Homo sapiens: one gene and its partners. The protein of the gene in region 1 purifies or fractionates together with the protein of each later gene. This does not show direct contact. Each region holds a gene or a part of one and is shown in the gene's direction. Other genes may lie near its edges.

Region 1 (3,109 bases):
GGCATTACAGGCATGTGCCACCACGCCCACCTAATTTTTACATTTTTAGTAGAGATGGGGTTTCACCATGTTGGCCTGGCTGGTCTTGAACTCTTGGCCTCATGATCCACCCGTCTCGGACTCCCAGAGTGTTGGGATTACAGGCATGAGCCACCACACCTGGCAGTTGTTACATTTTTAATGAAAGAAAATGTTAAATCCAGTTATTGAAAATAAGGAGGCAGTACTTTTCTCATCCAAGTTCATGGACTTTCTGAATTTTGTCCCCAGAGTCCTTTGGTGTTCTAGGACCCCAGGTTAAGGAACCAAAAAAGACAGGTGGGTGGGGCATGAGGGGGAACACATGTTAACCCTGTTTGTTCTGGTGAACAATTCAGATCCCCACTTTCTGAGGGTGCCCTGCTGGAAGATAACCCTGTTTGTAATTGTGCCGGTTCTTGGACCCTTGGTTGCCTTGATCATCTGCTACAACTGGCTACATCGAAGACTAGCAGGTGCAGTGGCTGGGCAGCAGGCAAGACCACCAAATAGTGGGGGACCAAGTCAGCTCTGAATGGGAAGCCAAAAGAGAATAGAACCAGGACTCAAGATTAGGGGAGCTGGGATTTCCTTATTCCTCTGTCCCCATGCCCAACCCCAGGCTCTTCTGAGAAACTGTGAAGAGAACCACTTACTGGATCTGTGGGATCCCCCAGTGGAAAGGGCAGTGTGGGTCACTCCAAATGTCCATAGGGAGGATGTGGGGAAGGTGCTATTCATCTTCCACTAATCACATATTTGTTTCTTTTTGTTTTCAGGGCAATTCCTTGAAGAGCTACGTAAGTTCTCTTCTCTCTGTTATAAGCAGAGAATAAAAAGCCAGGAAAGGGAGACAGAAGCAACAAGAGGAAGAGGCGGGCTATTGAGGGATCACATTCCCAGAGGAAAGGAGGAGCTGGAGAGCCTGGGTGGAGGGAAGACTCCTCCTGGGAGGTAGAGGGCAAAGAAGCCAGCTGTTAGAGACACATTTACAGGTGGCAGAGAAGCTGGAGGCACTCCTATCTGCCACCTGATCCATTCCTCCTTCACTGCCCCTAAGCAGGAATCCAACCCTAGCTGGTCTCATTGCCCATTCCACAGCAACTGCCCAGTGCCTCACCTCTCAGATCAACCATTGAGGCAGGAATGGAGACAAGATGACCCCAAGGGCTTTTCTTCTCCCTAGTTCAATGGTTTTATGATACAAACTACTGACATACGTTTTTCAAGTTATTTTCTCCTTCTTCTAGGAAATCCCTTCTGAGTGATGTCACATCTTGGCAGGGGTGGAGGAGAGCCTGGTTGCCCAGGGATTTGTCCTTGGGGACATCTCATCCATCAAGTTGCACACTCACTGGCATCTTTGCTATGGGGACATTCCAATTTGCACTTTCAGGAACACTCTGAATTCCAAGTAGAATTGATTTCCCTTCTTCTGTCATCTACCTTTTCTCTTCATTTTCCCATTTTTATTACCCTTCTTTCCATTTCTCTCTCCAGTCTTCCACCTGGAAGCCCTCTCTGGCTAAGGACAGGCAGGTGCCCCTCTCTCCATCAGAGGACACCTGTACTGGAGAGCAACACAGGATGGTCTCTGCCATGAACTGGAGGCCAGGAATCTCCTCACTGAAAATTACAGTATGGTAACTTTGCAAATGGTGGTTGTTTCTTCCAAGACTCCAGCCCTGATTGCGCAAAACTGAAAGGCATGTGAAGGGAAGGAAGAGGAAGAGTGCAAAACATTGAAGAGAGAGCTGAGTGAGCTGAAGAGTGAGGATATGAGTAGCCCCAACCCAAACCTGGAGATGGGGAGAAACCTACAGAATACTAGCCAGAGCTCCTCCTTGTCTTGGCAGCCTACTAGGGACCTGGGGAAGCAAAAACGAAAGCTGGGCAACATGCCTGCTTTAGAATGTTTTCCTTCTACTTACACATCTTCCACAGGTCTCAGAATCTTTCCTTCCTCTCATCCTTTTCTCCTATCTTCATATCTATCAGAGTATCCACTGTTTATTCAACAACTACTACTTGATGGTCAGACACAAACAAACAAGCTAGGTGCTAATTAATAAAGATACGAGTTTTGGCCGGGTGCGGTGGCTCACGCCTGTAATCCCAGCACTTTGGGAGGCCGAGGCGGGCGAATCACGAGGTCAGGAGTTCAAGACCAGCCTGGCCAACATGGTGAAACCCCATCTCTACTAAAAATACAAACAATTAACTGAGCATAGTGGTGGGCACCTATAATACCAGCTACTCCGGAGGCTGAGGCAGGAGAATCGCTTGAACCCAGGAGGCAGAGGTTGCAGTGAGCTGAGATCGTGCCACTGCACTCTAGCCGGAGTGACAGAGTAAGACTCTGTCTCAAAAATAAATAAATAAATAAATAAATAAATAAATAAATAAATAAATAAAAAATAATAATACAAGTTTTCATAAGCACACTTCTAACCCCTTGTCTTTTATGTATTTCCTTCCTTATCCACGCACCTGTCTCCCTCTACTCCAGCCTCATTACCCCAGAGGTCAGTCCTCAGGAAAACTAAACACAAAGAAAGAGCTCAGTCAGAAAGGCCATTTATTTATGTTTCAAGATGCTCACTGCCTCCTTTGTTTTGTCTCCTTTGCAGGCCTTCTCTCTTAGGCCTCTTCTCCTGGGGGTATGGATCCTGGGGGGAGATTGATCACCTCCATGCTTCCATTCCTCCCCAGCCATAGTGGGGACATCATGAGAGAAGCCAAGCCACTGGCCCAGGATCACCCGGCATTTATGGTGGCTGCTCTGGCACAGGTCCTTGCCTTTATAGCCCCTCCAGTGATCCATAAGGCCCTCTTTCTCCCCAAAGGAGAGGTCACAGATAGGGCAAAGGTAGCTCTTCTGCTTCCAGTGGGTCTGCTGGTGTCTGACCAGCCTGGAAAATGAGCTGAAAGACTTGCTGCAATGGAAGCAGTAGTTGGGCGGCTCTGTGAGGTGGGCCTTCTGGTGTCTGGAGAGATAGGATTTCTTGCTAAAAGTCAAAGAACAATGGGGGCAACAGAAGACATTGAGTCTTGAGGGCTTCACTGGATGAGAGTTGGATCTGGCATCCTG
Region 2 (4,242 bases), on another chromosome or scaffold:
TGCTGGGATTACAGGCTTGAGCCACTTTACCTAGCCCCAAACTTTTTAAAATTGGCTAATCGGGACTAAATATCATGAAAGAGTGCGACGTGGTCGGTTAAACAAGGACAACCCCGTTGTCCGTGTCTGAAGACCACTGCACATTTCCCAAAAGCAAATTTCGAAGTGGAGAATTTAGAAACCAACTTCCCAGATGAAGGATCCCACAGAGAAGTGAGTCCGTGGAAATGATAGAATCGCCCGGTTCCTTTCTCTAAACTCCGACTTCCTTTCCCCAAGGACATCCCAGGAGGGTTCAAACGCGCCCTCTCTAAGGCACTCTGCCAGGTCTCCTGATTTCCAGTTTCCGGGAGGTGAGGCCGGCTAGGGTGCCCCGAGGGCCTGCTCTAGAGAAAACCGCCCTCAGGTGAGGACGGCTTCCATTTCCGGGTCTGAAGATAAGGAACAGCTTATCTTCGGTCTCCGCCCTCCTGCCTGCAACCCTCACCCACTGACCACGCCGGCCAGTCCGCCGCGCCAGGGCTGCCCTTGGCCTGGTCCCCGGGTCTCGGTGGACCTTCGACCCGGGCCTCCCAGCTCTGGCCTCCTGCATCCACCCCGCCCCGACCTCAAGCTGCTTCCGGAATAGAATGAAATCCAGCTCGTTAAGCTTCGCGGGGAGGTGTGTCCACCCGCCCCGCGCCGACTCCGGCCGCACTGTCGCACTTCACTCGCACCAGCCAGTGGCCAAAGTGCTTGGGCACCTATTGCGCCAGGCCAGGAGCCGGAAGTCTTACCTCGCCCTCACCCCAACTCTTTGCCCCACGTTCCCGATAAGAACATGGAGGCTCGGAGAGATTAATTTGCCCACGTGCAAGCGGCAGCTAAGGGGCGGACGCGGAACTTGAACCGTGTCCCTCCTAAACCTGCCCCTTGTCCGCCGCAACGCGCCCTCGACGCGCACAAAACCCTCACTTTGCTACTGAGGAAAGTTATTCAATGGCCAGAGACACCCTGCGGCTTTTGAAAAGAGGTTTCAGGCTGACAAATATCCATATATACATATATATTTATATTTAAGCCTAAAACGACTCTTTGATCCCTCCCCTAAGACCTCCTTCCCGTCCGCCTAGGCCTCGGTATCCCCCACCAGGTATGAGAAGGAGGAGTCTTCATTCTTCCCAGGCGGGGAGACCACGCCTTCCCTGCCTCCTCCCTCCGCGGGGGGTCGCGTTGGAGGTCACCCCCGCCCCCTAGGCGCTGGGTTGGGAGTGACGCGGGGTGGGCTGGAGAGGTTTCCTGCCGTCTGGGAAGCGTAAACGGACCGCCCACCTGTCGGGCCTCGGCCGCCCGCACCTGCTTGTGAGAAGCCTGCGGCTGGGGCACCGCCCCCGGTCCCCGCCCGGGTCCGCGCATTGGGAGCACACTGGCCCTTTAAGAGCGCGGCGGCCGCGGCGCGCGGGGAGGAGGGCTGGGAGCGCCCGGAGCCGCGCTGAACTCGCCGGGGACGTCGGGCGCCCGCTCCTTGGCTGGCTCGCTTGCTCTCTCGCTCGCTCTCTCGGGTCGGCTCCCTGCGCCTCCTCCCGGGACTGCTTGGGGACCCGGGCCCGGTCGGGCGCGGCGGCGAGCAGAATCCCCGTGCAGGAGGCGCGCGCTCCGGGCAGCGCCCGGCCCCGGGCATGGACAGAGGGAGCTGGGCGCGCAGGGAGCGCCGCGGGACCGGGCGGCCGGAGCGCTGAGCCAGACAAAGGCTCCGGAGTTGCGCTTGCTCTCGGGAGCCGGGCCCCAGGCGCTGGGCGCCGAGGCTGCGGAACCTCGCCGGGGGCAGCTCCGGTCGGCCCCCTTTCCCGCCGGCTGGTTCCGAGCTCCCGGACCTGCCCTGCCCGCTTCTCCTCGGGCTTGGGAATTTGCCGAGGCGACCTAGGCGGCTCCGGCGGGGACCGGGAGCCCGAGGTCCGCGGCGCGCCTGCCGGGCCAGGAGCCAGGGAGCGTCGCAAGTTTCCAAGGCGCGTGCGAGGATCCGGCGTGCAGTGTTCCGAGCTGGGCTGGGCGCCGAGAGCATGGGCAGCGACCCGAGCGCGCCCGGACGGCCGGGCTGGACGGGCAGCCTCCTCGGCGACCGGGAGGAGGCGGCGCGGCCGCGACTGCTGCCGCTGCTCCTGGTGCTTCTGGGCTGCCTGGGCCTTGGCGTAGCGGCCGAAGACGCGGAGGTCCATGCCGAGGTAAGACCCCCGCCCTGCCCTTTGGCTGCGGGCTGGGGGCTTGGAGGGAGAGGCGCCACGTCCGCAGGCTGGGACTTGGAGGTGGAGGGAGCGGAGACGCGCCCCCTGTTCTGGGCCGTGGCGGGGAAGCAAGCGGACTTGGCAGTCTGCCCCTCCCCAGCTCGCCCTCTGCAGCGCACCTCTTCGCAAACCCTTGAGGGCGCAGGGCCTCGCTCTCCTCCCCGCTACTCCTACAGCCCTGTTCTGGGCACTGAGCCCCCACCCCGACCCCCTTACATTCAGCCTGTGTCCCGGGAGCCGCTTCCGCCGCCCCCAGCCCTTGCCTCCCCTCCTTCCTTCCCTCCAGGGCAGCCGATTCCTCGAGAGCCCGGCTGGCGCGCAGTGGCGCTCTTTGCGAGTGGGGAGGGGGCTGCTCTCGGGGACAGCCACAGGCGGAGCAAGAGCTGGGCGGCTGGGCAACTGCGCTCCTGCCCAGGTGGCCTCCCGTCTGGGTGATACCGAGCCGCGCACGGCGGGCCAGGATGGAGGCGGGGGGATGGGTGCAAACGGCTGAGGCAGCGGACTCGGGTTGCGGGGGCGCTTTGGCGACTTTCTGCGCTTTTGCGAGGAAGCCTAGGCACGCCCGGGCGGGGTCCTAAGGACGGACCCTGCCTCCCACAGCGCTTCCTCCCAACAGCGCCCCTACGTCGAAGCCCTGGATTCGAGAGGGTGGACCCCGCGCCTCTCTTCGCTAGGAGCCCGCTTGGCGTCCCTCCCGGGGCCCCGCTCTGGATGGGTCCCGCGGGTGACCAGGCGCGACATCCCGGCGTAGAGCCGAGTCCAGCCAGCGCCCCAGCTCCATGGTGTCTCCCGAGCGAGGACACCGAAGGCGCCAGCTTTCTTGCCCCAGAGCAAGAGCAGGGTCCACTCTTCCCCGACTTCTAAGACCTGCGCCCTGCCCCAGATAGGCGGGGAGAGGACTTGGGCGGGGAGTAGGGAGAAAGAACCACCCCGGAGCCGCTTCTGAACGGTGCTCAGGCCTTGGTGCCCTTGGGCTGCCCGGGCTGCGGGCCTGAGCGCCGTTTCTATTTGCAGCTCAGCTGGTGCTCCCTCCCTGGCCCACGGCGGCTTTCCCACCTCTCCGGGCTGCCTGGGAGATTTTTCCGATGGAAGCTTGCCCTTCCCCGCCCTACTTTAATAAAAGCATAGAGGAAGGGCAGGGAATTCCTCCTGGGCTCGAGTTACACCTCCCAGCCATTTCCCCACCTGCTCTGCCCTCCCTCCCTGGCCTGGCCAGGGAGAGCTGAAGGAGGAGCCAGGCCCTGGTGGGAGGCAGGATAGGAGCCCCGCCCCGACCCAGTCTGGCCACCCTCCCCCACCCCATTCACACAGGCAGGAGGAGCTTTAGGGGGCTCCTGTTGGTGAGGATTACCCCTCAGCCTGTGACCCAAGTACTGGGCGGAGAGTGCCATTTGGGCCCACCTGCCACTCTGGGCTGGAGTGCCAAAGAATTTCAAGTCACAGTCCCACCATTGAGTTTCTAATCTACTTAGGGATGGCGTCAATACATAGGAAGCAGTGATGGAATTCAATGGCCGTGCATTGCTAATGGCATCCTAGCTGGCCAGGAGCTCAGGGGTGCAGGGACCTGTAGTTGGAGGGGCTTCACTCTCTCTCTCTTCTGCTTTTCCAGTTCCATCTCACCCCTACCCCAACTCCCCAGCTCAGGGAGTGCCCACAGCTCGATGCCGCCAGGGAAGAAGCCATGGTTGCGTTATCACAAACCGTGCTCCTGATCTGGAGGTTGTGACTGTCCTGGAGCCCTACTCCTGGGGAAACACTTGGGTTGGACCTGGGCAGTGACTGGAAGAGACCCCGGAAGGTTTAAGGAGCCTTGAATGTTGGCAGCCATGCAGATAGAGGGCTAGAGACAGGTGGAGTGTCCCAGCTCCTACAGTTGGCTTTGGGTACAGGCTGCTTCTAGGGTCCCATCAGGTCTGGCCACATGTGGGCCCAAAGAGTCAAATGGCCTCAGCAGCCAGCCCATCTGCCGGGGGCTGTG
Region 3 (3,722 bases), on another chromosome or scaffold:
CCAAAGCTAGTGTTTTTTGTTTGTTTGTTTGTTTCACAAATACAAAAAGCACATTACATGATGGAAAAACAGTCTGACAAATTTTCTGCCCTACTTTAGATGGTGTAGTTCAAAACTAAATATTAGTTTATACTCACTTCCTTTCACGTATTTTAAAAGCAGTTTGCAAGCAATATTGTAATAAGTGCTATGAGCTTAGTTGAATTCTGCCCTAACTTAATCTCATCTTGTTCCTAAGGACATCCAGTCACTAGAGTAACTCAGGGAATAATTTTGCATTTGATAGGCATCTTTTGTTCATTTTTTTAAATCATCCAGACTGGAACTTCTAAATCAGTGGTTCTCAACTGGGGGCCTTTTGTCCATAGGGGGCATTTGACAATGTCTGGACATTTTTTTATTGCTGAAACTAAGGAGGTGGTACTGACATCTAATAGGAAAAGGCCAGGAATGCTGGTAAACATCGTATAATGCCATAGTCCCCTACAGCGAAGTATTATCTGGCACAAAATTTCAATAGTGCCAAAGTTGAGAAACAATATTCAAAATATGTAAGGGTTACAGTCCTTTGAGTTGTCAAAAGTAATTACTCTGATAATAGATATTCCAATAGATAGGTTAAAATTGTTTATTTGCTTGAAACCTGTATTTTAAACAGAATTTCAAACTTTTCTCTGTGTCTCTTCTAGCAGCTCCTCGTATGCAACTTGCTGTATTTTGCTTTCTCACACATTCCTTTTCTGCCTTTCTTTCCTACCACCCATCTCCTTTCTGTCTCTGTTGAGTCTCGTTCTCTCATGTGTTTTTTCCCTCCCCACGCATCTCAACCACTTTCTCTTCTTCTGCATACATCTTCCCCTACCTCTTCCACTTCAGTGCAGAAGCTGAGCATTATGAAACAATGAAAAGGGGGTTGAAGTATGACAGATCTAATTTTGAATCCCGGTTTTACTCTTTATTAGCCCCCGTGATCCTGATTACTTAATCCGTCAGAGATTCAATTTCCTCATTTGTAATGGGTATGATGCTACCCACCTCTTAAAGTTTTTATGAGGATTCAGTCTCATTTTGTATGTAAAATGCCTAACACATGGAGGCACTCAATAAATATTTGCTCCTTATTTCTCCCTCACCTTTTCTATTTTTCTTCTTTTTCTCTGGTTTTCCTCCCCTTATTTCCCTCAACTAACACATCATAGAACTGTGTTTTTAGTACATGTAATTCTCAAATTTATAGAATATTTATTGAACAAAGTGTTAAGATTGTGAAACAATGTATCTAATGTTTAGAATAGACAATCTCTAAAGAAAAAATTAAACCTGTCAACCTAAATTATGTTGTTTTTTATGTAGATCTCTAGTTGGTTTCTTTTCCCCCTTGTTGCTCACTAATCCTTGAGAGGAAAAATACCCACCTCCTCTGTACAAACTATTCTCAGTTTCCTATTCAAAAGAAGTGATAAGGCAAGATTAAAAGGAAAAACTCAAAGTACCATGACATCAGTCTTGCTGTAACAGAAATATGTAGAAATTCTGTGTCTCTATTCATGTGTTCTTTAAGACTTAGCAACACTGTCTTCATTTTCTGTCTTTTCTGGAGTCATAATCTTATCTTCCAGTAACAGCCACCTATCTCCGAAAACCTTGTTCCTACTAGTTATGTTTTATTTCATTGTGTTTATGTGTGTTTGAGAGAATTAATAAGACATTTGAAATGTAGCTTCTTTTGAGCAGATAAACCGAGTTTCTAACCAACCTGATGCAGAAGATACTTTCTATCTTCTGATCTTTTTCCCCATACCCAGTGTTTCCCCCGGCACCGCCCCCAGCCATTTAACTTCATTGGCAGCTGAGTCTTATCTTGGCATAGGAAGAGGAAGTGATTGGCTTTATTTCTTGCTGTTTTCTTAGGGCAACAACTGCAGCTTATCAGAGTTCTAATCAAAAGGAAAGCATGGTACAAATGTTTTTAACTTTATGGAAAATAAAGGATAAAATTATCATTAATACTTAATATCTAAACATAATGTTAAGAAAGTTAAATTCCCATTGTGGTTTTTACAGTATTTATTTTCATGTAACTTTTTAAATATCTGTGTTTGAGAATTTCTTTTATTTCCTCTTCCAATTAATCCAAAATAATTTAATTTTTGTTTTGTATCCTCTTAATTAAATTTTACTTGAATGTCTGCAGATGGCCTACAGAGGTAGGGAATTTAAGTTTGATGTTGCATGATTGCAAATTCCATCAGTCTGACTGAATTGAGGATTTCTTATTCCATGAGTTTTAGAGGTAATAACAGCAGAAGCGAAATTTTCACTGCCACAAATTGAGAATTGAGAAGGAAAGTCATTTTTCAGGAGAGATATTTGATTTTGACTACTTTTTTCCCCTAAGTTTGATACTTTATTTTTTAAAATTTATTTCTTATTTTTTTATTTTTGAGACAGAGTCCTTTGTTGCCCAAGCAGGAGTGCAATGGTAGGATCTCAGCTCACTGCAACCTCCACTTCCCAGGTTCAAGCAATTCTTGTGCCTCAGGCTACCGAGTTCCTGGGACTACAGGTGCATACTACCATGCCTGGCTAATTTTTGTATTTTTAGTAGAGATGGAGTTTTGCCGTGTTGCCCAGGCTGGTTATGAACTTCTGGCCTCAAGCAATTTCCCTGCCTTGGCCTTCCGAAGTGCTGGGATTACAGGCATGAGCCACCGTGCCCAGCCTGGCTACTTTTAATGGATAAGTTTACCCATCTTGTAGTAGCATCTAGCATATTGTCCTGCATATGCAAGGTACTAAGTAATGTCACCAGAGATTTCATATTTTTTTTTAAAAAAGTAGATTCTTGAAAAAGTATAAAATGTAGAAATGTCTTAACCTGCAGTTTGAAATCAGAAAGAGGCTTGAGCAGGGTGTGGTGGGTCATGCCTGTAATCCCAGCACTTTGGGAGGCTGAGGTGGGCGGGTCACCTGAGGCCAGGAGTTCGAGACCAGCCTGGCCAACATGGCGAAACCCCGCCTCTCCAAAAAGATACAAAAATCAGCCGGGTATGGTGGGGAATACCTGTAATCCCAGCTACTCAGGAGGCTGAGGTAGAAGAATCGCTTGAACCCAGGAGGCAGAGGTTGCAGTGAGCCAAGATCGCAAACTGCACTCCAGCCTGGGCGACAGAGCAAAACTCCGTCTGCGCCCACCACCCTCCCCCGCCACAAAAAAAGAGGCTTGAGTTAGGCATATTCTTGAGTTCGTGGCCCACAGTTATATATCATTAGTTCATGAAAAGCCCTTCTCTTATTTAATTATTTTTCCATTGCATAACCATTTCTTTCTCTACAATAGGCAGCTGTTCCAATACGTCTGTTAGATATTACTGAAATTGAGTGTATCTTTTTGACTACCTGGTGGTTTCATTTGTGTGTCTGCAATTATGACTTATAATTTTAAAAATATTGAAGCCCGGTAGTTAAAATGAAAAATGAATGCAAATTTTGGTATTTTTCTGTTTATAATCATTTCAAAGACTAAGTTCTAGTTGATATTCTCATTGTTTTTATCCATCCCCTCAAAAAAATCTTTTTTCTTTTATTGGGTCTATGTAGTTTAGTGGGAGGTAAGTATAAAACAATGCTATAATTTTTCATTTACTGATAAGTGACAAACAAGTTATAATGATAAGTTATAAATTATATAATATAATATAATGCTATTATTAGATGAAGCC

Evidence for each region.
Region 2: the proteins of MOG (region 1) and MMP15 purify together in Homo sapiens (affinity purification with mass spectrometry; one large-scale study listed by BioGRID and IntAct). This does not show direct contact.
Region 3: the proteins of MOG (region 1) and FAM241A purify together in Homo sapiens (affinity purification with mass spectrometry; one large-scale study listed by BioGRID and IntAct). This does not show direct contact.

The regions. Positions count from the first base shown.
Region 1 is NC_000006.12:29,669,904-29,673,012, forward strand, and holds the end of MOG (myelin-oligodendrocyte glycoprotein isoform alpha1 precursor), read left to right. Parts: intron 1-270; coding exon of another isoform or gene 271-318; intron 319-377; coding exon 378-494; intron 495-797; coding exon 798-818; coding exon of another isoform or gene 819-976; exon of another isoform or gene 977-1,268; coding exon 1,269-1,282; 3' UTR 1,283-1,518; coding exon of another isoform or gene 1,519-1,547; 3' UTR 1,548-2,462; downstream 2,463-3,109. Other genes in the region: ZFP57 (zinc finger protein 57 homolog), read right to left, coding at 2,597-3,109.
Region 2 is NC_000016.10:58,024,312-58,028,553, forward strand, and holds the start of MMP15 (matrix metalloproteinase-15 preproprotein), read left to right. Parts: upstream 1-1,442; 5' UTR 1,443-2,039; coding exon 2,040-2,201; intron 2,202-4,242. UniProt on the Homo sapiens protein: Endopeptidase that degrades various components of the extracellular matrix. May activate progelatinase A.
Region 3 is NC_000004.12:112,151,845-112,155,566, forward strand, and holds part of FAM241A (uncharacterized protein FAM241A), read left to right. Parts: intron 1-3,722.